Homo sapiens: one gene and its partners. The protein of the gene in region 3 purifies or fractionates together with the protein of the main gene of each other region. This does not show direct contact. Each region holds a gene or a part of one and is shown on either strand. Other genes may lie near its edges.

Region 1 (7,000 bases), on a different chromosome or scaffold from region 3:
GGTTCCTGCTCTCCCAGGCAGGAAGTGGGAGGGCTCTGAAGAGGGAAAAACAAGCCCATCTGGGCCAAGGCTGTTTTCCTTCCACCCTCCAGTGAAATACTTGCTTCCCTGCAGGCCCAGATGCAAATGTCTTGGCGAGAAAGTCCCTTTTGGAAAAAATTAAAACCCAACAGTAACCTTTCCCACAGTGAAACAGTTCTTGTCCCAGGAACACATGCAAATGATGGTTCTCACACAAGTTACTTCCCCGCTCAGGGCCTTAGTCTCCTCCTCTATAAAATGGGACAAGGCACATGGGGTCATTCTGAGAATGCAAAGAGATGAAGCAAACTGTGGTGAGACACGTGGCAGACGGCGTCTCCTCCCAGCATCTGCATGAACGGTTACCCAGCCAGATGCCCACTCAGCGCTCTGTGGGCACTGCCTCATCTAAGCCTCACCCCTGTGGGCAGCACAACAGTTATCCCCTCCCAGCAGACAAGAAAACCAAGGCACAGAGAGTTGTCCATGACTTGTCACATGGACCTTCTCCTCACCCGCCAACCAAGAAGTGCTCATCCTCCTCAGCTCTGCTTGGCCTCCAGACCTGGTCTTCCCAGAGGACATTTCTGACCTCAACACTCAGGCCCAAAAAACATTCTGTAGCCCGCCCTCCCTCTCCTAAGACTCATCTCCACTCCTCTCTGCGAGGCCTCCCTGCCCAGTGAAGCCCTCAGAGTCCTCCCAAAGACTCCTCTGTAAAACAGGACAAGACCCCCTGTCCAGCCCAGCTCAAGGGTCACTCTGAGAATCCAAAGAGATGAAGCAAAATGTGGTGGTCAGGCCACCACAGTCAGGCAGCCTAGCTCAGACTGGCCCTTGATGGAACCAGCTCCTCCAGCCAGCTGGTCTGACCCCTTGGGCGTGCATGTGGTCTTTTCCAGGGACTGGGCCCTTCCCACCCCTTAGTTCCTGGGCTAACATGGCACATCGCCAGAGGCAGAGATGGCTGCCAGCTCCTTCACAGGCCAACCCTCTAGCTGGGGAAGGTGACATCGTAAGTCTACAGTGTCTCTACGGTGTCTCTTCCTCACCTCCACCAGCCCAGGGGCCTAGCTTGGAGCTGAACAACTCATGCTGACCGAGGGCTGGGACCCCTCAGAGCCTAGCAGGACACTTCTCAGACGGCCTGCCTGGCCCCGCGTGCCTGTTGTGGCCTAGTGCTTCTGACAGTGTGCCATGGTAGCCCAGAAACTAAGGGGTGGGAGGGGCCCAGCCTCTGGAAAAGACCACATGCACACCCTAGGGGTCAGACCAGCTGGCTGGAGGAGTTGGTTCCATAGCCATCTGTTCTAGGCAGGCTGAGTACCCCCAGGGGCAAAGGAGCCTCCTCTGACAAGACGGATTCCAGAGGTTCTCATCTCATCTCATCTCATCTCATCTCATCTCATCTCATCTCATCTCATCTCCCCAACTACCCCTGAGCAATGCAAGGCTCCCAGGTGACTCTCCCTCCCTCCGTGGGCAGGGAGCCCTAGAGTCTCCCTCCATTCGTGGGGGGGGGGTGCCTAGAGTCTCCCTCCCTCCGTGGGTGGGGGACCCTAGAGTAGGCCCCGTGCTTTGGCACCTCTCATCTCACAGGATCCTCCCCACTGCCCTCTGGGGTACCCACAGAGGAGGCATCTCGGAGGCTCAGAGAGCTGGTCCTTTACCCAGTGTCACACAGAATAGCCAACACCTGATCTAGGTCTCTGGATGGCAAGACCACAGGGCCTGACAATGAAACCCTGCTTCTCAGTCACTCGAACCCCAAACTCTTCACACAGCCAGGCCCCTGCCACCCTCTCCACCCACAGCGCAGCCCTTCCCGGGCTTCCTCATCTGCTGTAGCCATGCTTGCGACCTGCCTCAGGGACTTTGAACTCATGGCTCTCTCTGCCTGGGATGCTCTGGACAAGTCTTTATGGCTGGCTCCTTCTCTATTTGAGCTTCAGCTGAAATGTCAGCTCCTCATAAAGGCTTTCCCTGACCACATCATCGAAAGTGGAAACGCCCATCCCTCCCCACTTGCTCCCTAATTTTCTCCTTAGCACCTATCACAAGTGATATTTATTTACTGCTCTGTCTTCCAAGGCCTGGACTAAACCTGTCTTGTTCATAGTTGCTTCCCACACCTATCACGGTATCACAGTGCCTGGCATTCAGTAGGCATCAAATAACTATTTGTTGACTTAATGAACAAACCAACCAACCAGAGAGCACGGCTGGTTAAGACTGAATGCTCCTGCCTTCCAACAAGAAGTCAATTCAAACCCATTCACATCTAAAAGTTCTCTCTGGGAAAGGTTGTTTTGTTGTTGTTTTTTTTTTTTTTTTTTTTGTCTGTTTTGTTTTCCCCCCATCAACCTCTTCTGACCAGACTTACCCAGAAAACATCTTTCCCCTGTGTGGAGCCAGTTGGTACAGAAATTTCATTATCAGTCCCTTATCAGGTTGACCGTGAGCCCCACCCCAGGGTGGCACTGTGAGTCACCTGGGAAGAAAGGCCTCCGGGCAGGAGGGCAGGTGGTTATTCCTGCTTCTCCAGGAACCAACCCAAAGGCAGCAAGGTCCAGTCCTACGACATAAAGCAATTCCTCTATTAAAGCGGGGAACGAGACCATGTACAAAGTCTAGGTTAAGAGCGAAGGACACTTCTCAGGGCCTTAGTTTGCTCATCTATAAAATGAAGGTGTTGGAAGGTTCTCCAAACCCCTGGCAGGGCTGCAGCCCTGATTCTCTGGATTTTAAAGGCTCTGTGGCCAGACTGGGGGAGGGGAGGACCTCTCTGTGCCCGAGGCCTGAGCCCAGTCTGATGCTATGAGATCATCTCTGACAGCCCGTTAGGCACGGCTGGCCACTTCTCCAATATGAAGGCTGCCCCACTTTCAGCTTCACTATTTGAGTTTCACTATTTGGAATGCTTACCTAGAGCCAGAAAATGAACTTTGCTCGACAAATCAAACACAATAAGAAAGATAATTAAAGAAATAAAATGTCTACATATATGTACAAGATGTCCAGATGGATGTTTACCAACATATAACAGTGGCTGAATCCCAGTGGTAGAATCAAAGGGGACTTTTGCTGTTTTCGTTGTACTTTCCCAAATGGCTTGAATCTTTTAAGCTATGCGCATGTATGATTTTCACAAAAATAATAAAGCTCTTCTCGAAAGTAAAAATCTCCTGGAAACTGTCTCCAGAGAAGTGCTTTCTTTTTGGCCTGGCTTCACCTAGTGCTTCACTGGGAGGCCAGGGACGTGGCCTCTTTCAGAAAGGTTATCTTCTACCCTCACCCTGAGACCAGGGAGAAACATACATGGCGCCTGGAAAGGTCATGGGGGCCCGAGGAAGAAACTGGAGTCAGGCAGCCTGGATCTGGTCTTGGCCTGTCACTGACTTGCTGTGGGCTTTCAGGCAACTCACTTCTCTTCAGGCCTCTGATTTCTTATCGGTAAATTTAAAAGGCTGCACTAGAGGTGTCTTTAACAGCCCTTCTCATTCTTAGTCTATGGCTCTTGAGCAGCAAGGCTAGAGAGGAAGGCAGGAAAAGAACGACTAATCCATGACTAGTTGATGGAGTGTTCATCATGTGCCAGGCACCACTCTAAGCTCTTCAGATGTATTAATCCATCTAATCTGCTTAGCAACTCTTCAGGTAGGTTAGGTGCATGGAAGTTATGTCTAGGCCACTTAACCTTTAAGTGTCAGAGCTGGGATTTGAACCCAGGCAACCTGGTACACAGCCCACACTCTTAACCATTAAACTATAAGAAATGTAAGAAATCACAGGCCAAGCTCTAATAAGCAGGTTCATCCTTGGAGAAAGCCCAGAAAGAGTTCCTATTGCCTCTGGCATTTGCTGCCTCCACCACCTACCCACCCTCAGCTCCTCCCTACTTGCCCCCAACTCCCACCAAGTCCTTTTCTTCCTGATTAGTCAACACTCCCCAGCCATGACACCTTTACCCACTTGAAAGTCCTACCCTGTTATCAAGGAAACAGGCTTGGTGCTCTGTGGAGAGTCCGTAGCACCATGATCAGCCCTGCCCACTTTGCAAAGTCAAGGCCTCAGCAGACCTGACCACTGCGGGTTACACCCCCAGCCAGGCCTCTGCCCCAAGCTGGATCCTCGCCTTGTAGGTACAAGTGGGACTCAATCACCATCATGCAACATGCCTCCCCTGAGCACCTACTGTGTGCACAGGCCCCAGGGGCAGCATTCAGAGGAGGATATGGATGAACTACAATCCTGACCTCTGGGAGCCCACAGTCCAGCAAGGAAAAGCAGTCCTGTAAACGGATCTCTAAGATACCCCGTGGGCAGTGCTAAAATTAGAGGTGTGTCCCCAATGGGCTGAGGGCGCATGTGTCAGAATGATTCACCCTGTGTGGTGGGAAAAGGAGGCTCTAAGTGCCTCAGCGTGAGCTCATTTCTCCCGCAGACATCCCCATGACTTACTGGAAGGGCCAAGGAGCACCTACCTGAGGATGCAGGGACCTGGGGTACATGCCAGCTCTGACAAGTGAGCCTCAAACACACCCTTTTGCAGCCCCAAAGTTCCCTGCCGAAAACAAGAGGGCCCTGAGTGTGGGACAGATAACCATAAGTGGTTTAGGGGTATACCTATCATAGGGACTTACAGACTGAGCTTTCCTCGTTCAATGCCCTTTCGACCCCTCCGATTGCATCAAGGAGCGGGTCTCAGTTTGGGTGCTAGTTTGTCTTTCAGCCCCTCAAGCACTTGCCAACCTACCTTTTGAACAGAGAGGGTAGGCGTCAGGGTCACAGCCTTCAGCACCCATGACATCCAGCTAGGATTTAGTATCATTGTTTTGTTTTCCCTGTACTGTACTTATTTTAAACCTTTACCTGCTATTTATGATGGGCGTCTTGGTTTCCCATTCATAATACTGATATAAAGCCTCCTTTTAAAAATAAATTTAAAGGCGTGCATATTCAGGGCAACTTGAACCTATGTGCCTGGAAAATAAAAAATATATACTTTAAAAAAGGGAAAAAAAGGAAAAGAAATTTAAGTTTAAAAAGGAAGTTTAGGCTGGACACAGTGACTCACGCCTGTAATCCCAGCACTTTGGGAGGCCCAGGCTGGTGGATCATTTAAGGTCAGGAGGTCGAGACAGTCTGGTCAACATGGTAGAACCCCGTCTCTACCAAAAATACAAAAATTAGCCCATCGTGGTAGTAGGCGCCTGTAGTCCTAGCTACTCGGGAGGCTGAGGCAGGAGAATCGCTTGAGCCTGGAAGGCAGAGGCTGCAGTGAGCCAAGATCACACCATTGTACTCCAGTCTAGGTGAAAGAGCGAGGCTCTGTCTCAAAAAAAAAAAAAAGTAAGTAAATTTAAATAAACATATTAAGTAAATAATATTACAATTGGTGTCACCTCTATATAGGACAATTTAATAACATCAAAATGTTAAATGCACATACAAAAACAGGCAAAGCTATTCTATACTGCTAGATAATCCAGTGGTGATCACCCACAAAGGTAAGAGATAGTGCCTAGAAGAGGGTTTGAGGGGTATCTGCCTTCTGCTGTCCATTCTGCTGGTTGACCTGGGGGCTCAGTGTACAGGTGTGTTCACTTTGTGAAAACTCATCAAGCTGTATATACTGATGGCAGGTGCGTGTCTGCATGTATAACATATATTCATATACCCCTTAACTCAACAACCCCACTCCTAGAATTACTCCACAGACATATACACCCATGCAAAATGACACATTCAGAGATACTCACTGTGTCACTGTTCTCAGTGAAAGAAAGAAAGGAAGAAAGAAAGAGACGGGGGGGGGAGAGAGAGAGAGAGAGAGAAAGAAAGAAAGAAAGAGAAAGAAAGAAAGAAAAGAGAAAGAAAGAAAGAGAGAGAGAGAAGAAAGAAAGAAAGAGAAAGAAAGAGAGGGAAAGAAAGACTGGGAACAACCTAAGAGTTCCCCAGCTGGGGACTATTAAATAAATGTGGCATAGCCTAGAGTGGAATCTATGTAGCCAACACACAGAATGAGGCAGCTCCTAGCAGATCTCCATAATTCACGTGGATTTAAATTTAAGTGAAAGAGGGGCTACATACGTAGTTCTGTGTATAGTGTGCTACCTTATTTTAAATATACATATGTTTGTCCTAGGACATCCTTTGACTACGATAGCTCAGAAAAGAGTGACAGGAAACTGATAACAAAGGCCTCCTCTGGACTGGGCAGGCCAGGAGAGAGGGGTAGGAGGGGAGGCTTGTCACTAACCACTACCCTTTCCTTTTTTTTTTTTTTTTTTTTGAGACTGTCACCAGGCTGGAATGCAGTGGCGCTATCTAGGCTCACTGCAACCTCCGCTTCCCGGGTTCTAGCGTTTCTCCACCTCAGCCCTCGCTGTAGCTGAAACTACAGGCACACGCCACCATACCCAGCTAATTTTTGTATTTTTAGTAAAGACGGGGTTCCGCCATGTTGGCCAGGACGGTCTTGATCTCTTAACCTCACGATCCGCCCGCCTCAGCCTCCCAAAGTGCTGGGATTACACCTCACCCGGCCTTACCCTTTTCTACTTCTAAATTTTGTAACAAGCCCATGCATGCATTTCTATCAGTAGTAATTTATTTTTTATTTTTTATTTTCTGCAACAGAGTCTCATGCAGGCTGGAGTGCAGTGGCACAATCTCAACTCACTTCAACCTCCGTCTCCTGAGCTCAGGTGATCCTCCTACCTCAGCCTCCCAAGTAGCTGTGACTACAGGTGCATGCCACCACGCCCAGCTAATTTTTGTATTTTTAGTAGAGACAGAGTTTCATCATGTTGCCCAGGCTGGTCTCGAACTCCCAGGTTCAAGCAATCTGCCCATCTTGGCCTTCCAAAGTGCTAGGATTACAGGCATGAGCCACAATGCCTGGTCAATAGTAATTTTTTTTTTTAAACCGAGTCTTACACTGTCACCCAACTACAGTGCCGTGGCACGATGTCAG
Region 2 (7,037 bases), on a different chromosome or scaffold from region 3:
GTAGGATGAAAGCAATGCTTTGGAAAGATGACTCTGGAATGGATATGTGTTTCTTGAAAGAGAGACAGCGTTGAGGGCACTATAAAAGGTTCAGCTGAGGCAAAAAAGCCTTGAACTGGGCTGTTAAAAATGGAAATGGAAAAAAAAGGTAGAGTTGAAAGAGATGAAAAATTAAAGAACTAAAGCAGGTAGTAATTAAGAGGACGTGGAGGGAAGTCAATATGATCTGTTTTCTGCTCTGCAGTGCTCTTGGTCACAAATTTGACTGTCAATCCTAGAGAAGATCCACCCTCTCTGCTTAGTCTCCCTCAACTAATCCCAGAGCACGATGCTCTTGTGGGTTTTGTTTGTTTTGCTTTGAGACAGGGTCTCACTCTGTTGCCCAGGCTGGAGTGCAGTGTCACGATCATGGCTGACTGCAGCCTGGACCTCCCAGGCTCAAGTGATTCTGTTGCCTCAGCCTCCTGAGTAGTTGGGGCTACAGGCATGCACCACCATGCCCAGCTAATTCTTGTACTTTGTAGAAGTGGGGTTTTGCCATGTTGCCCAGGCTGGTTTCAAATTCCTGGGCTCCAGCAATCTGCCAGCCTCAGCCTCCCAAAGTGCTGGGATTACAGGTGTGAGCCACCATGCCCGGCCCTGCTCTTGTGTTCTTTAAATTTCTGTAGACACTAATATGTATCACACAACCTAGCACTTGATGATATATCCTATTTTTCACTGCTCCTCTCCTAGACCATCATACATCTCACTCAATTTTCATCTTTTATTTATTTAATTATTATTTTGGAGACTGAGTCTTGCTCCTTCGCCCAGGCTGGAATGCAATGGCACGATACCAGCTCATTGCAACCTCCGCCTCCTGGGTTCAAGCAATTTTCCTGCCTCAGCCTCCTGAGTAGCTGGGATAACAGGCATCCACCACCATGCCTGGCTAACTTTTGTATTTTTAGTAGAGACGGGTTTTCACCATGTTGGCCAGGCTGGTCTCAAACTCCTGACCTCAAGTGATCCGCCCACCTCGGCCTCGTAAAGTGCTGGGATTACAGGCGTGAGCCACCGCGTCCGGCCCATTTTCATCTTTTGTGATGCTTACTGGGAAGGACCTATGAAGATCCTACTACTCATTTGCAGAACCATCAGCCTCCAACTGGTCATAAATCATGGTTTTAGAAAAATTCATCTATAATTTTTTTTGTGGTGATTCTTAAAAACCTTTTTCATCAGTTTGATTTAGAACATCGGTTTCATCAGTTTGTCTCTCTCACACTCCAAGTCTCAGTTTTTAGCTGCATTAGTAACTGTTTAACCAGCCATTCTTCTTTTGGAAAGCCAGGTCCATTGTTTAATACCTTAAGTCATTATGCAGGTTTATGGTTTTGTCCAGTTAATATTCAACATATATGAAAGAATACTCCTTTACATGTGGGAGTTTCACTAGGCATAAAAACTTAAATCCCCCCCAAAAAAGGGCTGGACAAAGTTTGACAATGCGGGACCAAAGAGAACACAGTGTGTGGTCTCAGGGCAGGTGTCCCAGGGAGCAGCCTGGGGAACTGAAATGAGGCGTGGAGCCCAGCAGAGGAAAGGGGGAGGTCAGACAGGCACAGGCACCACCTTGGGCATCTATCTTCCTCATTACACAAAATACGTCTGGCTCCCTCTCCTTTTCACAGAGAGCCAAATTTTCCTTTCATAATCAGAGAAAAAAAGTTGATTTCTATGATTTCTACTCTCTAGAATTTGGGGAAATCTCAGGAAGAGATTTCTTACTCATTATTTTTAAATTTCTTGACCCCAAGTGTTCCTTCTACTCTTGGAAATATGATTAAATATTATAATACAATTTACCCTGTCTATTAAAACAATAATCCAAAAATAGTATGACTAATACTTCTAGAATTTGAGCAACAAAAGAACCTAGATGGCAAAAAGTAAAATTTATATTTCATTTCTCCTTCCTTTAATTCCTTCACTCTTTCACCATATACTTATTTTTTGAAAGAAGATCTCATTCTGTTGCCCAGGCTGGGGTACAGTGGCACAATCACAGCTCACTGTAGCCTCAACCTCCCTGGCTCAAGCAATCCTCCCACTTCAGCCTCCGGAGTAGCTGGGACCACAGGTGGGCACTATCACGCCAGGCTAAGTTGTTTATCTTTAATAGAAGTGGGGTCTCGGGGTCTCCCTATTTTGCCCAAGCTGGTCTCAAACTCCTGGGCTCAAGCGATCCTCCAGCCTGGGCCTCCCAAAGTGCTAGGATTACAGATGTGAGCCACTGTGCTGGCCTCATCATATATTTATACAGTGCCTACTATAGGCCTACTTCCATTTTAGGGTGCTGAGAATATAAAGATGATTGAGCATTCACAAAAATCTCAAAGTCCAGAGGGAGAACAGATAAGCAAATGAATAGCCACAATATATTTTTCTGATAGAGACACTCACACAAGGCTGCTATCTGGGGCACCTAAGCTAGACTGGGAAGGAAGTGGTCAGAAAATAGGTGGTATCTGAGCTAAATCCAGAATTATAAGTAGTCAGACAAAAGTAGAGCTGCATATGTAAAGGTGTGGAGTGGGGGAAAAGAAGGAAAGAGAGAGAGAATGAATATGGATAAATATCTTGCATTAAGGAAAGTAAAGAGGTTCCAGGTGGTTTGGGTATTGGTATGTGGGTATGTTTGGGGATGGTGGTGATGAATGGCAGAGAAGAGTAGAAGGAGAAGAGGCTGAAGTGATAAGCAGAGCTGAAAACACAATGGGGCTTGTAGGTCATGCCTAAAAGCATGAACACTTAGTGGAATTATGGAAGGGTTATAAACAATCACATGTGGAAAGATAATTCTGACAGTCCTAGAGAACGGTTCTGACTGAGCAAGACCAGAGGCAGAGAGCCCTGTGTAATGGAAATGGAAAGAAGGGTAAAAATTCAAGACCCATCATAGAAGGAAAAATATGGCTTGGTGATAGGTGACTACAGAGGGAGAAGATAAGAATGACTTCCAGGTTTGAAAATAGTAGACTACAGCAGGAGGAGATGGGTGGAAGTTGAGGATAGGGAGATGATGAGTTTAGTTTAGGATATACTGAGTGTGAAATTTCCAGGAGGTTGTTACATTTTCATATAGGTCCAGAATTTGGCATCAAGGATGGAATTGCAGACAAAACTTTGAGAACCATAAGGATAAAAGTGAGGTACACAGAGCCTCTCTGGAAGAGCATCAAGACTTGGAATAGAAGGGTTACTGAAGATGCCTTCTTTGAGCAGGCAGAAAGGGAGCACGCAGAGAACACTAACAAAGAATGGCTGGAGAGGTGAGTGGAAAACCAGGGGAAGCTGGTGCCCTGAAAACCAAGGGATGAGAGAATTTCATGGTGTCTCAAACACCACCCACAGGTTGAGTAATATAAGCAGTGCTTATATTACTCAATATAGTGTCTGCTTAGGATGTAGCAGATAAGGCCATCATTGCTACATTTGTCAGGAGACTGTTTAGGTGGAATGGAGGGGACTGAAATCATATTGCAGTGGGTTGACGAGAGACTGGGAAGTGACAGGGTGGTTCAAGAAGCAAGGGACACAGAGATGGAGGGAGAGAATGCCAGTTGTTGGAGGATGTCAGATAATAATTTTGTTACTGTTAAAATCATTTTGCTAAAACTGTGGCTATCACAAATCCTAGGCTATGGTAGGCATTCCATAAATTTTGAATTACCTGTTTAAAAGCCTTTATCAGCTTTTTCCTCCATAAACAATGACCTGATACACTTTCTCTTTTTTTTTTTGAGACAAGGTCTCACTGTGTTCCCCAGGCTGGAGTGCAGTGGCACAAATCTTGGCTCACTGCAACCTCCATCTCCTGGGCTCAAGTAATCCTCCCGCCTCAGCCTCTCGAGTAGTTAGGACCACACGTGCACACAACCACACCCAGCTAATATTTGTATTGCTCGTAGATATGGGGTTTCATCATGTTGCCCAGGCTGGTCTTGAACTCCTAAACTCAAGTGATTCGCTCGCCTGGGCATCCCAAAGTGCTGGGATTACAGGCCTGGGCCACTGCTCCCGGCTTATTTTTCCTCTTTGTAAGTATGCTCATATTGCCTAAGGTCTGCTTACTATAAGAAATGTTAGAAATCTCATGGTGAATTTTACATCATAAAAAATATTTCCTGTGTTAAGATTAGATTAGCCCTCATCATTTTGAGAAGTAGTTTATTAATGATGCTACCTGGTCAGTGAGCATGCTGTACAATTTCACTTGAAGGGATGTTTAGAGGTAACAACTATCATTAGACAACTTTAGCAATCAAATGACAATAACATATCTAATGTTTTAGCCTAATGATGTTAGATCATTATTGCAGGAGTTACTGATCTAATCAGCCATCCATTTCTCAATCTTTCTCTTAGTAACGTGCACAGTTTATAAAATTTGTGATCAGGCATTAAACTTGAATAAGGGTTAAGTTCCAAACACTAAATTAGTCAAGCTATAAAGTAAATAGGAATGGAAAGGAATGACTTAAAAATTCAGTTATTTTAATAATTTAATACTGCCAAAAGAATACCCCTTCAAATCACTGACACTAGAAATCTAAAAGGTACCAAGTACCAAAGGAAGAAAAAAGACATCTAGAAGTCAGCCATCTTTCCTTAGCTCTTTTTACAGTCATAGTTATCCAAATGGCATTCGTGCTAAGAATAAGCATTTTTTCCTTTTATTTCATGGGATGATGAAGAAAATACGCATGCAATTCTCCAATTCTTGGCCTACTTTGGAGTTTAGAGCAGATTTTCATATGGCTGAGGGGTAGGGTCCCTTCAGCCAGCATCTAATCTGGAACAGATGGACTAAATGTCACATTTCCATACAAAGCTGCCATGTGAGCAGGTAGCTTGGCCCCTGTCCCTGAGGTAAATAGGCTGATCTGTCAATTAGGCAGCTGCCTGAAAAGTCATTATTTTAATCACTTATCTCTGGAAGCCCTTCTCTCAAGCCCCAGAAGTGCCAGCTCATGCTGTCAGGGCTGTGGGAACAGAATGTGCTGGCAATGACTGAACTGCAGAGTCAGGAGGGGACTTACCCCAGCTGGGAGTCAGTGAAAGTGCTTCTCTCAGTGAGCAGATTCCCACTTCCCCCTGCGGCCGCCTGGCCGACAGTCAAGTGCGCTCTCCTCCCGCTGGAATCCACGGCGACACTGGGCCCAGCTTCCCTCAGCGTGCGGGTGCTGTGGAAGGAGCTCTGATGCCAGGAGGACCTGGAAGCCCTGTTCTGAGTGACGGGCTGCAGGGGCACCAGCGGCCTGACCTGCCCGACAGTGAGCCCTGCCGTCAGGTAGTTCTCCTTCTCCAAGAGGTTGCCCATGCTGCGGCTGGTCCCTGGCCTGGGGTACGTGAGCAGGGCCGGGTTGGCAGGGATGCTGTCAAAAACGGTGTCGCTAACAGAGCCATGCTGGTACTGTCTGTGGTATGTGTCAAAGTGGCGCTGCCTGCTTGTGGTGCCAGCACGGCTGACCCCCACGATCTCGGAACGAGCATATCTCGGTGGCACTAGGAGGGCGGCCCGCCTGCTTTCTTGGTGGTGCAGGGTGTGCCCAGCCTGGCTTCTCTGGCTGTACTGGTAATCGCTGTGCGTGTAGTGAGCCCTCTCCGGGCTGCTGTCAGGAGAAATCTCCAGTCTCCTCAGAGGATGCCTCAAGGACCTTTCTTCCACGGACTTCTGGGAGCTGTACTGTGCTGTTCCTCTTCCCCAGCGACCTTCATAAGTGGCAGTTGTGCCAGCCTGCACATGAGAGAAATAAAGTTTAAAGGGGGCATAAATCAAATTTCAACTTTGCTGAGGACTAATTACTCTGGGACTATTACCCAACATGTCCGTTTCTCTGAATCAGATGACGAGAAGTTTGCCCCTTTCTGGGTAAAGGCTTTTTGAAAATAAGACTTGGTTGACTTGAGTCATATTTATTTGCACTAGGATGTAAGAATGTTTCACATCCCTAGTTTTCCATGGTATCCTCATAAATATCAATTTTCTCAAAACTCATTTAGGAAATGATAATACTTGGGAAAAGTAAACACTCAAAAATAATCTTAGGAAGTTTGAAAATATTTTCATGGTAGTAATCTGATCACTAGGGTTACATTCTTTGATATCCTACCTTTAGCATGTCATAGGTTTTAGGAACAGGGGAACGGCCTCCAACAAAATCATTTTCAACCAAGTGTAGGTTGTAGACATACTCAGGAACACTGCTGGTTCGGTGAAGATTTCCTGCAATCAAGCAAATATTAAAATAACTCAGAATACAAGTAGGCTAATTAATATTTACAGACTGTATAACAATGATGTATTAAACTTTTAAATTTAAGTAATGAAGGCCAAGAACAAGTATTAAACGTACGTTAATGTTTTTAAATGCTAGTTTCACACCACCCTGGGATATGGCAAGTGATCAAAGGTTATCAAAACATTCTCTACAAAAGTTTTTCAGCTGGGTGTGGTGGCGCACGCCTCTTATCCCAGCACTCTGGGAGGCAGAGGCAGGTGGATCACCTGAGGTCAGGAGTTCAAGACCAGCCTGGCCAACATGGCGAAACCCATCTCTACTAAACATACAAAAATTAGCTGGGCATAGTGGCGGGCATCTGTAATCCCAGCTACTCAGGAGGCTGAGGCAGGAGAATCACTTGAACTCGGGAGACAGAGGTTGCAGTGAGCCAAGATCACACAATTGCACTCCAGCCTGGGCAACAAAAGTGAAACTCTGTCTCAAAAAGAAAGTTTTGGCTGGGCACGGTGGCTTACACCTGTAATCCCAGAACTTTGAGAGGCAGAGGTGGGTGGATCACCCGAGGTCAGGCATTCAAGAGCAGCCTGGCCAACATGGTGAAAGCCCCTCTCTACTAAAACTACAAAAAATTAGCTGTGCGTGGTGGCAGGCACCTGTAATCCCAACTATTCGGGAGGCTGTGGCAGGAGAATCGCTTGAACCCAGGAGGTGGAGGTTGCAGTGAAGCTGAGATTGCGCCATTGC
Region 3 (7,098 bases):
ACCTCTGGTAGTATTTTATTTTTTTGCTAAGTAAAAACTTAGCAAAATGACATTTTATTAGTTTTCTCCCTCTCAATTTTTGTGGCATATATCATTTTGAAATTGGGTGCATTATATACAGAAAATCAAAATAGTAACTTCAAAGCATACCATATAGATAGCATCTGCTTTCTACAAATTGCCTACACAGACCAAACTCCCAAAATGTTATCAATGTGTTACTGCTCAAGATCTTCCAACAATGTTAATATGTCATCATTTCTACAGAAGACTACGTTTTTAGTTATACATATATTTTAAAATACTCCCAAAACATTTATTTCAAATTACTCTTCTTTCTCATTTGTTAATCATAGTTTAAGAAATATGATTAGTAGTTTTAATTCAAAATAAAAATGGTATGTTGAATAAAATATTACATAAACATAAATTAGTATAAAATAATTTAGTAAATTAAATCATTTAATATAAAAAGGAATTCAAAGACATTACAGATTGGCACCACATAATTTAAGTCAGTCACTTTTAGACACTAAATAACTTTAAGAGATTTTTTTTAATGAAGGAACAAATCAAAATGGCTCAGAAAAATCAGATGGAGTGGATACACAAATAAAATACATGTTAATGCTTAACACATTGAATACAAATTTTCTTTATACTAAAGACTTTAAAATGTCCATGTGTTAATTTCTTTTGGAGGTGGAAAAATAGTTTGTCCAAAAAGACACTTTTCACAGTTGAAGGAACTTGAAAGTTCTGTCCCAGTGAGTCCTAATGGTTTTATTTCAGGCAGCAGATTCATTGTCAAATATCTTACTTTTTAAGGTCTGTAGGTTATGCTGAATAAAATTCTCTGCACCATGAACTTCAGAGAATCTGAAGTCACTTCTCCTGACAGACCAGTTTTTCATTTTTATTGAATTCTGAATTGTGTCCGATGTAAAGTAGTAAACTATAGGGTCAAAACAACAGTTGGAAACAGCAATACAGAGAGTGATTGGGTACATTGTCCTTACTGCTGCCACTACTGAGCAATTAACAAATGTTTGTGTTCTCACAAGAGAATATAAAATAAGATTGATATTGTAAGGAACAAAACAGAAACAGAATATGATCAAATGTACAAAAATCATTTTTAAAACCTTAGTTTTGTTTATTTTGCTTCTACTTAATGTAACAGGTTTGGTTAAAGTTTTTAGCACCATACTAGAACAAGTTACATTTAAAATTAGAGGAATAAAAAATCCCACTATTTCGATGAAAATTACAATCCTTGAGAGATATGTTTTCCATGTGGCTTCTGGAAAATTTTCAAAGCAGGCTTCTGAGGCATTGTTACCCTGAGAGTGGGTAGACTGAACAAAAACGGCGGGTGCACTTCCTCCGATCACAGTTAACCACACGCCAGTGCAAACAATCTTTGCATTTCTTTTGGTTCTTAGAGTCTTTGACTTAAATGGGTAGACAATTGCCAGAAATCGATCTACACTAATACAGGTTAAGAACAGAATGCTTCCGTACATGTTGGTATAAAACAGCATCACAGAAATCTTACAAAGTAAATCTCCAAATGGCCAATTCCGTGTTGTGAAGTAAAAAATCCTGAAGGGTAAAGTAAAAACAAAAAGCAAGTCTGACATTGCCAAGTTAATCATGTAAGTTGTAGTTTCATTTCGGACTTTGAGGACGCAGATGAAAATGTATATGGCAACACAATTGGATATTAACCCAAGCACAAACACCATGCTGAACATGCACCCATACAAAGTGTACTTAAAGGAGTCATTATAGAAGCAGTGGGAGCTGTTAACGCTTACCATCGTAAAGGCACGTCCAATTTTCAGTTTGGAAGCACTTTCATCAGCTGCAGTCTCCTTTGGGATTCAGATTATAACCTCTATAACCTCCAATTTATTTGCAAATTATCTGGATCTTTGGATGGTTTTATAAATATTTCCTTTTTCTCAGAAATACCCAAAAGAAACATGAAATTTGTTGCTGTAAAATTTCCGCTGGGTTCTTCAACAGGAAAATATTTTCATTTGTTAGTCTTTAGAAAATCCATGAATTCCAAGGCTCAGTTAACTGACGAGCAACCTTTAAAAAATACAGTCAACGAGTCCAACCCATAGGATTATAAATTTAAAGAAAAGCTGTGATCTGTGACCAGAATGAAACCACTTGTCTTCTAAACTTGTATTTCAGTAGTCAAGATGAATACTCCAAAGTTAATGTTTCTTTATGCCTCAGAATGTTAAGCTTAAGTTATCAATCTTATTTTCTTTTCAGTGCAGAGTTTCAGAGACTTAAACATTCCCAATTTGTCCCATTTTACTTCTTGCTTCTTTTAAATGAAGTTTTCCTTTTTTGTTTTCCTGCAGTGGATCCCAGATTGTGGGTAAGCAGAAGAGTCTTTTAAAGATTCCGAAATAAACTCCCAAGCTTGTTAGCTCTTGTTGAATTGAGGCCTTTTCCTCAGTTGCCAGTTGTATCTTGAGGTCGCTTTCTCTGAAGTGAAAAAGAAAGGCTTCCTAGATTTGTAATATGACATCACAGGAAGAAGAGGCTGGGTTTGGACAAAGAAACTTTCAGCCCAGTTTGTTTGCACTTCCTTTAATCTGATAATGTGTCTGCTGGGAATATACCTAGGAGGCTTGCAAATGGTCACTGGCTGTTGAACTGCGTGGTCTGCTCATTAACTCTTTTTATGTGGAAATGCCTTCTGCGGTGCTGGCAACCTCTCAGAGTTGTTTTGATTTGTTTCAGTAGTAATAATTGAAAGAAAAAAATCACTATTCAGCCTGTTCTCTTATTCGATTGTTTTCGTGTTTGGGATATGACAATTTAGAAAAGAAAATGTGTATGGGTGTGTATTTATAAATTGAAATTGTTAGTGATATCTTAACATAGCATTTCAAAGAACTGTTTAATGACTATGAAACAGGGGCCTTTAACCTTTAAGGTATAACAAGCATTTGACTCTTGGTTTCTGAAAAATACTCAATATTTAATTGTTATCATTATGAGTAGCTCTTATCCTGGGTCTCATTAGTTTTTGATAAGCAATTTTCTAACATTCTTTCCTCTTTCCTATGCAGTTGTATTAATATTTTAGAGCTGTTTAAATTTTTAAATTACTCATTTCTCCAAAAGAACAAACTCAAGAATGTTTATCTTTGGTGTGGTGTTAATTTTACTTTCTAAGCACAAAATGAAATTGCATCTTTTTAAGCAAAATTTTTTTAACCTTAAATTGATTGAAATAAGGTTTAGAGAATAAAAATCCTACTACTTGGCAAAATTTTAGGTTCATAGTCTTATCTTCCTTCTTCCTCCCAGCTCTTCCCTTAACCCCTTAATATGACATTAACTATATATTGAAATATATTTCAGATTTTGTCTCCATCTAAAAGTTTCTATGAATGGTTTATATGTTTATATTTAAAGTATACTCATATTTTGGGCCAGGTGCAGTGGCTCACGCCTATAATCCCAGCACTTTGGAAGGCCGAGGCAGGTGGATCACCTGAGATCAGGAGTTTGAGAGCAGCCTGGCCAAAATGGCGAAACCCCATCTCTACCAAAAATACAAAACTAGCCTAGGGCAATAGTGCGTGCCTGTAGTCCCAGCTACCCAGGAGACTGAGGCAGGAGAATCGCTTGAACCTGGGAGGCAGATGTTGCAGTGAACCAAGATCAAGCCACTGCACTCCAGCCTGGGCGACAGCGAGACTATCTCAAAAAAAAAAAAAAAAAGTATACTTATATTTTAAAGACTCCAAAATCAGAAGAAGAAAGTGTGTGTAAGGTGAGGGTACTTAAATGTAGGTGTTATTTCCTCAAAGATTGAGGATATCACAACCTCTATGGCACATGTTTTTCTTGTTTTAAATATCATTTTCTTCAGAAAAGGCTAGATCTAGTTATGCCTTACTGTTATTATTTTTTTAATTTGGTCTAGTTTAAGCTGAAACTCTTCCTCTTGGGTATTAAGTAATTTAAGAACAATTTATTTTTTTCTCATAAATTACTTAGCTAGCTTAAAAATAACTTATTACAGTAAAATGTTTTGTGTTGTTTTGCACCATTCTTTCACACTCAGCAATTTTTGTCATTTGTTGATGAACTATAATCTATTTCTACTGTCTGGACTAGAAAATTCATCTATTATCAAATGACAAAAAAAGATGAGTATTACTTATAACCAATACTTAAAATTTTGAAGGGTTGAATATCTTTTATATCACATTTGGTATAGAAAAGATGTATGTGTGTGTTCTTATTAGAAGGCTGGTAGAAGCTGAGTGAGCATTAATGAAAAAAGGAGTGGTTAATAAGCTTGTATTCTCATTGGAAAAAATTTTCTGTTAGTAGTTATGTCTTACTGTTATTTTTTTTTTATTTGGTTCAGTATGTTTTAAAAAAACAAAATCTTAGTAATCTTCTTTCAAATTGATAGTCTCCTCTTTAGTCATCTTTAATTAATGAAATATATGCAGTTGTATATGCTGATCTCATCCTACTTTTACTTTCATTTTGAATATGGCGGCATTTTCTCATTCAAATAATTAAAATTTATTAATTCTACTTGGAATATTTTTCTACATATTGTCATTACTCACTTGACTTGTTATTCACTTAAGTCATTCATCTATAGTTTTTTCTTTTCTTTTCTTTTTCTTTTTCTTTCTTTCTTTTTTTTTTCTCACTCTGCCGCCCAGGCTGGAGTGCAGTGGTGCGATCTTGTCTTACTGCAACCTCTGCCTCCCAGGTTCCAGCAATTTTCCCACCTCAGCCTCCCGAGTAGCTGGGATTATGGGCACCCGCCACCACACCCAGCTAATTTTTGTATTTTTAGTAGAGATAGGGTTTTACCATGTGGCCAGGCTGGTCTTGAACTCCTGACCTCAAGTCATCCACCCACTTCAGCCTCCCCAAGTGCTGGGATTCCATGTGTGAGCCACCGTGCCCGGCCTGTTCATTTATAGTTTTTTAATGTTTGAGTTACTGGGGCTTAAAAATGGATAGATCACTATTTGTTGAATTAGGCTTTTCATTATTATCAGTATCATAGTAAATGTTTGTATAATTCTTACCACAATTCTTGGTTCTTTGTAGATGATTCTCACATGTTTGCTGATGAATGAATCATAAACTTGAATTTTGTTGCCAGTTGTTTCTACTGAGGAAGAGCCATAGCAGAGGGACTGTTTGAACAGGAAGAAGATAATTGAATACTGCATTTTTTCCAGATATTAAATTTGGCCTCTAATTAAGGAACCAAAGGGGAATTTAGAAACTTTGAAAAATTCTTAGGTTAGAATTGGAAAAATACAGAGTAACTACTTGCAAAGGGAGGTAATGAATCCATATAATCAATTATATTTAATAGATACTTTTGTATTTGATAAACTCAGGCAAACTGTTATTTTAATGTGAGATCTCTACACTTCTGGAACTTAACTCTGAGAATCAACTTATTTCTTATATGGATTTTTTGGGGGGAGCGAAAATTAAACAGAGCCAGATAGATGTTAAAATGGTGAACACAGGAACAGCTGGAGTCTGCAGCTCCCAGCGAAATCAACGCAGAAGGTGGGTGATTTCTCTATTTCCAACTGAGGTACCCAGCTCATCTCATTGAGACTGGTCAGACAGGGGGTGCAGCCCATGGAAGGCGAGCCAAAGCAGGGTGGGGCATCGCCTTACACGGGAAGTGCAAGGGGCCAGGGAACTTCCTCCCCTAGCTAAGGGAAGCCATGAGGGAATGTGCCACGAGGAACGATGCATTCCGGCCCAGACTCTATGCCTTTTCCGTGATCTTCACAACCCTTAGACCAGGCAATTCCCTCGGGTGCCTACACCACCCAGGCCCTGGGTTTCAAGCACAAAACTGGGCAGCCGTTTGGGCAGACACCGAGCTAGCTGCAGGATTTTTTCTTTTTCGTACTCCAGTGGCACCTGAAACACCAGTGAGACAGAACTGTTAACTCCCCTGGAACAGGGGCTGAAGCCAGGGAGCCAAGTGGTCTAGCTCAGTGGATCCCACCCCCACAGAGCCCAGCAAGCTAAGATCCACTGGCTTGAAACTCTTACTGCCAGCACAGGAGTCTGAAGTCGACCTGGGATGCTGGAGCTTGGTGGGAGGAGGGGCTTCTGCCATTACTGAGGCTTGAGTAGGTGGTTTTCACCTCACAGTGTAAGCAAAGCCACCGGGAAGTTTGAACTGGGTGGAGCCCACTGTAGCCCAACTGCTTCTCTAGAGTCCTCCTCTCTGGGCAGGGCATCTCTGAAAAAAAGGCAGCAGCCCCAGTCAGGGGCTTATAGATAAAACTGCCATCTCCCTGGGACAGAGCACCTGGGGGAAGGGTGCTATGGGTGGCTATTGGTGCAGCTTCAGCAGACTTAAACGTTCCTGCCTGCTGGCTCTGAAGAGAGCAGCAGATCTCCCAGGACATTGCTCGAGCTCTGCTAAGGGACAGACTGCCTCCTCAAGTGGGTCTCTGACCCCCATGTCTCCTGACTGGGAAACACCTCCCAGCAGGAATCGACAGACAACTCACACAGGAGAGCTCCAGCTGCCGTCTGGTGGGTGCCCCTCTGGGACAAAGCTTCCAGAGGAAGGAACAGGCAGCAATCTTTGTTGTTCTGCAACCTCTGCTGGTGATATCCAGACAAACAGGGTCTGGAGTGGACCTCCAGCAAATTCCAGCAGACCTGCAGCAGAGGGGCCTGACTGTTAGAAGGAGAACTAACAAACAGAAATGAATAGCATCAATATCAACAAAAAGGACTTCCACACAGAAACCCCATTTGAAGGTCACCAACATCGAAGACCAAAGGTAGATAAATCCATGAAGATGAGGAAAAACCAGCGCAAAAAGGCTGACAATTCCAAAAACCAGAATGCCTTTTCTCTTCCAAAGAATCACAACTCCTCGCCAGCAAGGGAACAAAACTGGACAGAGAATAATAAACTCCTCCAAGCCAAAGGACCATGTTCTAACCCAATGCAAGGAAGCTAAAAACCTTGAAAAAAGGTTAGAGGAATTGCTACCTAAAATAAGCAGTTTAGAGAAGAACATAAATGACCTG
Region 4 (6,887 bases), on a different chromosome or scaffold from region 3:
GTTCCCAATCTGTTTGATAGAAGATTTAGGCACTCCTTGGCATCTCTGTATATCTAATAAGGATGAAATTATATCTCAAAAGTAGAAAAGATACTCTAAAACTACTTTTGAGGAAGGCATCTCTAGGTAAACTCAAGTCTGCATTTTATCTTGTCCTTTCTCTCTAGGGCCCTTGCTTGAAGAATAATCCATACTATACCTGTGCTTCCACTTCTCGGAGGTGGTAGAGGGGAGGCTGTCCTCTGGTCAGGAGAATCCTATTCAGTGCTCCCTTAGACATTCTTCCAGGCAGGATCAAACTCAAAGGAAAAGGAATTTGTGAAGCAAACCATGGCTTTGTCACAGTAAAGTAATTGTCACTCTCAACCCAGAATGTGTGAAGCTGCAAAAGAAGAGAAAAAACACTACAAGGATGTTCTTTTATTAAATGAAAGATCACTCAATCAACATGAGAGTTTTTCATAAATATCTTTATATGAAGTGTCTTCATACAAATTTTCCAGTTAGAATGACTCAGGATAAAACAAGATTATTTTAAATGTGTGAGTTTTGTTGACTGCTATCTTCCAAACACCCAGAACAAGGCCTGACACATAGCAGGTGTTCAATAAACATTTGTTGAATGAATGAATTACACCCAATTCTATACATGGAGCAAAAAGATCCATCTCCCACAAAGAATTTCCAACATGACATTTTATTTTACTTTGTTGTTTCACATACTAGTTGAATGCCTAACAGAATCCAGTTTCACAGTAATATGAAGGAATTAAGATTAACATATAAGTAAAATTTTCTCTTAAGACTTTTCTCATTGGTTTTTTTCTAAACAGACTATGTACATTTGCAACTAGGCTACTAAAATACTGTAATATTTAAGAACACTCACCACTGCAGGGAGAAGCTTCTCTTCGAGGAGAGCAATATAAGCCAATGTATCTGCCCCTTGTTTTGCTGAGAGTTCATAATCAGCATTATATTTCTATTAAAAAAAAATAAACCAAAGAAACTCAGAAGTCAAAGAGCAGCCCAAAGACAGTAAAACTAATCAAATCAGGATTCATATTTTTCCTTACAAATAGCAAACGTGGTATTAAAATGGGAGAAAGAGAAATACAAATCCAGTGAAACCTATTGCTTAATGCACATAAAGTTCTTAGCACAGCATCACATACACAATATGGTCAATAAATGTTACAATATTAACTACTATTATTTTCATGCTTGTTAATGACCTAGTTCAGTGCATGGCATGTAGTACAAACAAAGCAACTATTATTTTTAACAAGAAGGAAACAGTTCCAATTGGCTGTGTTTCTCCCCAAGACAAAAGAAAAAACCTTCCAATTTATAAAAGTTCAAAATGTTATTGACACAATTTTTTTAAGTACAGTATTGGCAAAACAAATAACTTATCCATTCATATAAATCTTTACATGTTTAAACATTTTGGATACATAATTCTCTACTGTTAAAACATTTAGATACATTATTCCATAAAACTGCTATTAAGAGCTTTTTAAAAATAATATAGTTGCTAGTTGGTGAGAGCTCAGGTGTCATGCCCAGCACAAAATGTGTACCAACTATGTGACAAAATACACAATCCTATCAATAAGTTTAATAGTGAAAATGGCTAATTAAATCTACTTACATACAAATTTCAATAAAATTCAAGCAAAGTTTATTAAAATATAAACTGACTACCTCTTCATATGACTTTCAAATCACAGAACTCATGCTTTAGAGCAGTGATTCTCAAATCTATTTTTACATCTTGTCCCAGGTATCTCCAATTGTCTAATGAGTTGGCAAAAAAAAATAAATAAATAAAATAAAGCCCAACATGCAGGGATCAACAATCTACCAATCTACTTCTTCAAAGTGAACCACCCACCTGTTTTCTTAAAAAGTTTAGTATTTTTGCTGGCTGAGAAACCATGTCGTCTTCAGTTGTCAAAATTGGTACATCGCCTATAATCAAAAAACAGTTTACATACAAGGACACAGTGTGATTTCCTCTGAGAGATTCCAATATCCTAAAAACTATAGCAGTTGCACATTTAGAGGGGAAAAAATGAGTAAGCTTGTCTTGGTTTTTTTGCTGTTTCACAAAGAGCGGTTCTAAAGAACATTTTCGTTTCTCATAATTTCCAGTGATTTCGCTTGCACTTTGAGGTATTACTCAGAATGATCAAACCATAAACAACACAGAGCCAAGGTCACGGTAAGAAACTAAATCCTCAATATTATAGCTATATACCTCACAGCTTTAAATGGAAGAAGAAAAAAAAGAGTGCAGAAAGGGGAGTGTAAAGGTTTACACTATACCTCTTGAACCTCTCCAGGTGTTATCTATCACATTGACTTTCAAGGGTGCACCAGAAAATTTGGCATAAGCCTGAAACAGAGTTTGCAATCAAACATTTTAGACCAAGTGCGTAATGCAAAGCTGCAGAGCAGCTTTACTTCACAGCCCCATCCCCCAAAGGCAGAAGGCGACTGATACTGAGGCCGCATCCCTCCCCGTGATCTCAAGTAGGGACGCGGGCGCCAGCCACCCGGCTTTCGAGGACTTTGCTCCCCAAAAGGTCCTGGGGATGCAGAGTAGGGAGGGCGCGCCCCTTGCTTCGGGGTTTCACTCCACCGCCCAGACAGCTTTGTGAGGCGGACAAAACTCGGAGCCAAGCGGAGAAGCCTTGATGTCGCCGCCGGCCTTCGGCGGGGGTATCGGCCAGGTTGGGACTCGTCGGTGGGAGGGAGCCCAGGGCAATGCAGCGTGCAGCGGCTCGGCCCTCCTGGACCCCGCAGCGCAGCGGGAAACTGGGGCAAGTCAGCCTGGCGCCTCCAGCCCCGCCCCTTCCTCCTGCGCCCTGGCCCGCGAGGCGGCCTCACCATCACCACCAGGGACTCGCTGTGAACCGATGGGAGTCCCCAGCCGCCTCCCCAGCAACTGAGTTCCAAGGGGGCCGCCATCTTGCGCGGGCCGACCTTTACTATCCCGGAAGTACTTTTCCTCCTAATTTCCGGCACGTGAAACGCGGGGGCGTGGCTAAGGGAGGGAAGGGTAATTTGGGGGCTCTTGAGAGATGAGAGAAACAACGACTGGAGGGATTAAGAAGAACTCTTAGGAGCAGCTTGGCCTAAAGGGTAAGAGTTGTGTGCCTTAAGTCAGACCCACCAGTAATTCTTCAAATATTAATATTTATTAGATCCCTAGAGTGTTCCAAACCCTTTGAACATTAAATCTGTGTGATGCCTAAATTAACCTGTTTGTAAAACAGGGATGACCCAGTATTTACAAGATTGTGGTATTTACAATGTCGGAGAGAAAGAACTTGGCACACAGGAGGCACTCAGTAATTGTTCAACCCCTTCTCCCATGTATGTGGCCTCTGCCTGCCTTTCCAGCCTCAACCTGTTCTCACCCTCATGTTCACTGGCACAACCCTGCTTAAAAGTTACAGTATTTCTGAACGTCAGGTAAATTGTGCCCACCTTCAGTGCTGGTCCTTCAATCTGGAATATCTTTCTTCCCTATGCAGCTGCTCCCTCAAAAATGAGCTTAACTCACCTTCCCTGTGATGTTTTTACAAAGTTAGGAGCTCTGGGTTCTTGTAGCCCCTTGTGCATATTTGAATTGTAGCTTCTCTCCCTAGCTACAGACCTTTTGCCTTTCACAGAAGAGGGCTAGCTTCATAGGTTTGGGACCTGTGCAGCCACACAAGGCTCTGTGCTTAAAAAGGCTCCTCATTTGGCTGATGCTCTTCCGTCACTGTCTTGAAATTCTTAAGTTTTGAACAAGGGGCTCTGCATTTTTATTTTGGACTGGGCCCCTCAAATCATGTAGCTCGTCATGTCTGTGGGCCTAATGAGCACAGACTAAATGTTTCTTGACGTTAAACCTGACAGTTTCTCAGAAAAACTATTAAAGAGGAAATTTTGGTCTTGGAAATGCTATGATCCAAACATATGACTGGGTCTCAGAGTTAGAACTTGGGTGCTGGGTCTTTTTTCTAGAAGGCACAGTAGTCTTTCTGGGACACCCTCGCAGTCATGCCTCTGAGTTCTTTCCTCTATTCCACTGAGATGGTCGGATCTTCTTAACTAAAACTCAAAAGAAACCTCTGCAACTTTTCGTAAAATTACTATTCAACAAATATTTGCTAGGCACTCCCTTACTGTTTACATAATCATTCAAATTACAGTGCCAGCCTGCTAAAGTCTTTTTTACATGTTTCAAAACCAAGAGTTCTAAGAAATGAAAAAGAGATATGTCAGAAATGAGAATTCATTAATAATAACTGTATAATTGGAAAATGCATAACATATGTACCATTAAAACTGTCGAAACATTTATTGAGCAGCTCCTATGTCTTAGACATCATAAGGTTCTGGAACAATACAGAAATATATAAAACATGAATTCTGTCCTCGGGAGTTTACAGTGCACAAAGGAGATATACACACACCAAGGTGTAACAAGTCAGATAATCACGAGTAGGGTTAGAAATATAAGCAAAATACTACAGAAACACAAAGGAGGGACAGTGCATCCTCTGTGTGATCAGTGGAGACTATCTGTTGAGTCTTCAGTATAAAGAAAGTAAAGTAATTCAACTTTCAGATTGTAATGGAACCTCCCTGTTTTGAGGGTTAGAAATGTCAAACCATAGACTGACAAAGGCAAGGCAGGGGGAAAGAAAATCCTAAGCCATAAAGCTGAGGGTCCATATACTACATTCAGGCATTTAAAACAATCATACAGAAAGAATGTGGATTTCCTGAGCCTTGTTTGTAGCAGGACTGAGAGGAGTGAATGAACATTCTTAGTGGACACATAACACAGTTACTCAGTTTGGCCTTCTTCCGTACTGCTGCTACTACATACAGTGATTTCATTTGCATTAAAGAGAAATTAAATCTCTTCCCTTAGTGTTGAATTGAGACAGAATAGCATGTCATTGCATCTGATGAAAGAATCCTTACACACAGGTTTATTAGTGCATAGATAATAGCAATCTTTTATTGCTGCAGTTCCTCTTGAGAGTCTGTATCTGTTAGATTGAATTTAAAAAACTCTAACATAGCTGATTGCACAAACAGGCTGAATACTGTTCCAGAGAACCACACAGAAAATTGAAGCCTTCAGAAATTATGCCTGGTATGGTTAGTTGGCTCCTGTGCCTTTTCCTGGCTGTTTTAGAGTATTGTTCAGAGTTCATCTAAATCATAACTTCAGATTCCTACCGGGAAGAATACTGTCTGCAAAACATCCATGTTTGTGTGGGATGGCCTGAATCACAGCTTTATAATGAGTATCCCAGACAGTGTTTTCCCCAAAAAAGAAATCTTATTTTTCAAAAGATGATCATTAAGAATGGTTTCATCTGGTGATAGTCATCTGAACTCAGGCAACCTGACCTTGGCATCCATACCCATCCTTCATGTGTTTCTTAACTTGGGAGCCACAGTGCAAGGTTTGTTAGGCTCTTTTTGTCTGGGTGATTAAGAATCTGGGAAATGGTGCTGTTGGGAAAGATGAAAGGTTTGTGACAAATGATGGTACAGTATATGGTCCCTTATGGGAAAATTAAATTGTAAAGTCTTAAATATCCCTTTGAACTTGAAGATTCTGTAATTTGTGTTCAGATATAAAATCCTTAAGGAGGGGAAAGAACAAACACTGAATAGAAAAAAGGAGAGCTGAGTTCTTGACTTGGCCTCTGATTAGCCATATGCGCTTGGGCCAATCATTTTACATTGATACCTCTGCTCATTCATTTATAAAGCAAAAGTTCTTTTATCTCTGAGATGCTATCATTTTATGTGTAATGAACATTTAATAATTTCTGACATTTATGGAGCAATTTCTACATGCCAGAAGTTGTTTCAAGTATCTAACATAACTTGCTTTATCTCCATAATGATTTCATGACACAGGTACCTTCCTAAGGTTAACTAACATCTTTGTGTCCCTCCTTGAAAATAGAAGAAAATATCAGTACCCATATAGCCAGTAGGTGGTAGAACCAAGATTTGAACCCAGGCAGTTTTGGCTTCAGAGTTTATACTCTTAACCACTGTGTCATACTGCCTCATGTAGCCTCCTGTGTAGTCCATTAAAAAGCCCAGTTTCACCCAAAGTGGAGATATCAATGCCATGATATTATTGTTATTATTTATGTAAATAATATTTGTTTAGTATTACACCATTAAACGAATTCATTAAGCAGCTTCTGTATGCCTAGCACACTGCAAGCCTGTCAGGGAATAAAAATTTATGTTCGCCTGTAATCCTAGCACTTTGGGAGGGAGGATCACTTGAACCCAGGAGTTCAAGACAAGCTTGGACAACATGATGAAACCTTGTCTCAACAGAAACACAAAAATTATAGCTGGGCATGATGGTGTGTGCCTATAGTCTCAGCTACTTGGGAGGCTGAGGCGGGAGGATGGCTTGAGCCCAGGAGGAGAAGATTGCAGTGAGCCGTGATTGTGCAAAAACTTATGTTCAAGCTTTTAGAGGCACAGTTGATGAAACAAGGCCCACATATTTGAACTAACTAGAGACTATTAGGAAGTACCATTTTGTCAAGAAGACAAGTCTAGTATGGTTTTAGACAAAGGCTTGAATGTACTGCAATGCTTGGCAAAGGCCTAATGAAAGAAGATGATAGCTGATCTCGAAGGGTGGGTACGTTGCATTTAGATTGGCACAGAGTAAGGCATTGCATATGGGCTGTGCTATATAAGTGAAGGCATAGAAACAGGACTGACTATGGCAAGGAATCTGAAGATGAGTAAACGAATGCTGGGTTTGGTTATAAGCTGGAGACTGCTCAGGGAGAGTATTGGTTGACTAACTTGAGAACCAGAATTGGAAG

The links.
Region 1: the proteins of LPAR6 (region 3) and TSPAN15 purify together in Homo sapiens (affinity purification with mass spectrometry; 3 studies listed by BioGRID and IntAct, with this or other methods). This does not show direct contact.
Region 2: the proteins of LPAR6 (region 3) and PKP2 purify together in Homo sapiens (affinity purification with mass spectrometry; 3 studies listed by BioGRID and IntAct, with this or other methods). This does not show direct contact.
Region 4: the proteins of LPAR6 (region 3) and MTX3 purify together in Homo sapiens (affinity purification with mass spectrometry; 3 studies listed by BioGRID and IntAct, with this or other methods). This does not show direct contact.

Annotation. Positions count from the first base shown.
Region 1 is NC_000010.11:69,454,465-69,461,464, reverse strand, and holds part of TSPAN15 (tetraspanin-15), read right to left. Parts: intron 1-7,000. UniProt on the Homo sapiens protein: Part of TspanC8 subgroup, composed of 6 members that interact with the transmembrane metalloprotease ADAM10.
Region 2 is NC_000012.12:32,872,759-32,879,795, forward strand, and holds part of PKP2 (plakophilin-2), read right to left. Parts: intron 6,275-7,037; coding exon 6,162-6,274; intron 5,786-6,161; coding exon 5,088-5,785; intron 1-5,087. UniProt on the Homo sapiens protein: A component of desmosome cell-cell junctions which are required for positive regulation of cellular adhesion.
Region 3 is NC_000013.11:48,410,601-48,417,698, forward strand, and holds LPAR6 (lysophosphatidic acid receptor 6), read right to left. Parts: upstream 2,514-7,098; 5' UTR 1,824-2,513; coding exon 789-1,823; 3' UTR 538-788; downstream 1-537. UniProt on the Homo sapiens protein: Binds to oleoyl-L-alpha-lysophosphatidic acid (LPA). Intracellular cAMP is involved in the receptor activation. Important for the maintenance of hair growth and texture.
Region 4 is NC_000005.10:79,988,263-79,995,149, forward strand, and holds the start of MTX3 (metaxin-3), read right to left. Parts: upstream 3,001-6,887; 5' UTR 2,977-3,000; coding exon 2,896-2,976; intron 2,402-2,895; coding exon 2,332-2,401; intron 1,975-2,331; coding exon 1,898-1,974; intron 983-1,897; coding exon 890-982; intron 383-889; coding exon 200-382; intron 54-199; coding exon 1-53.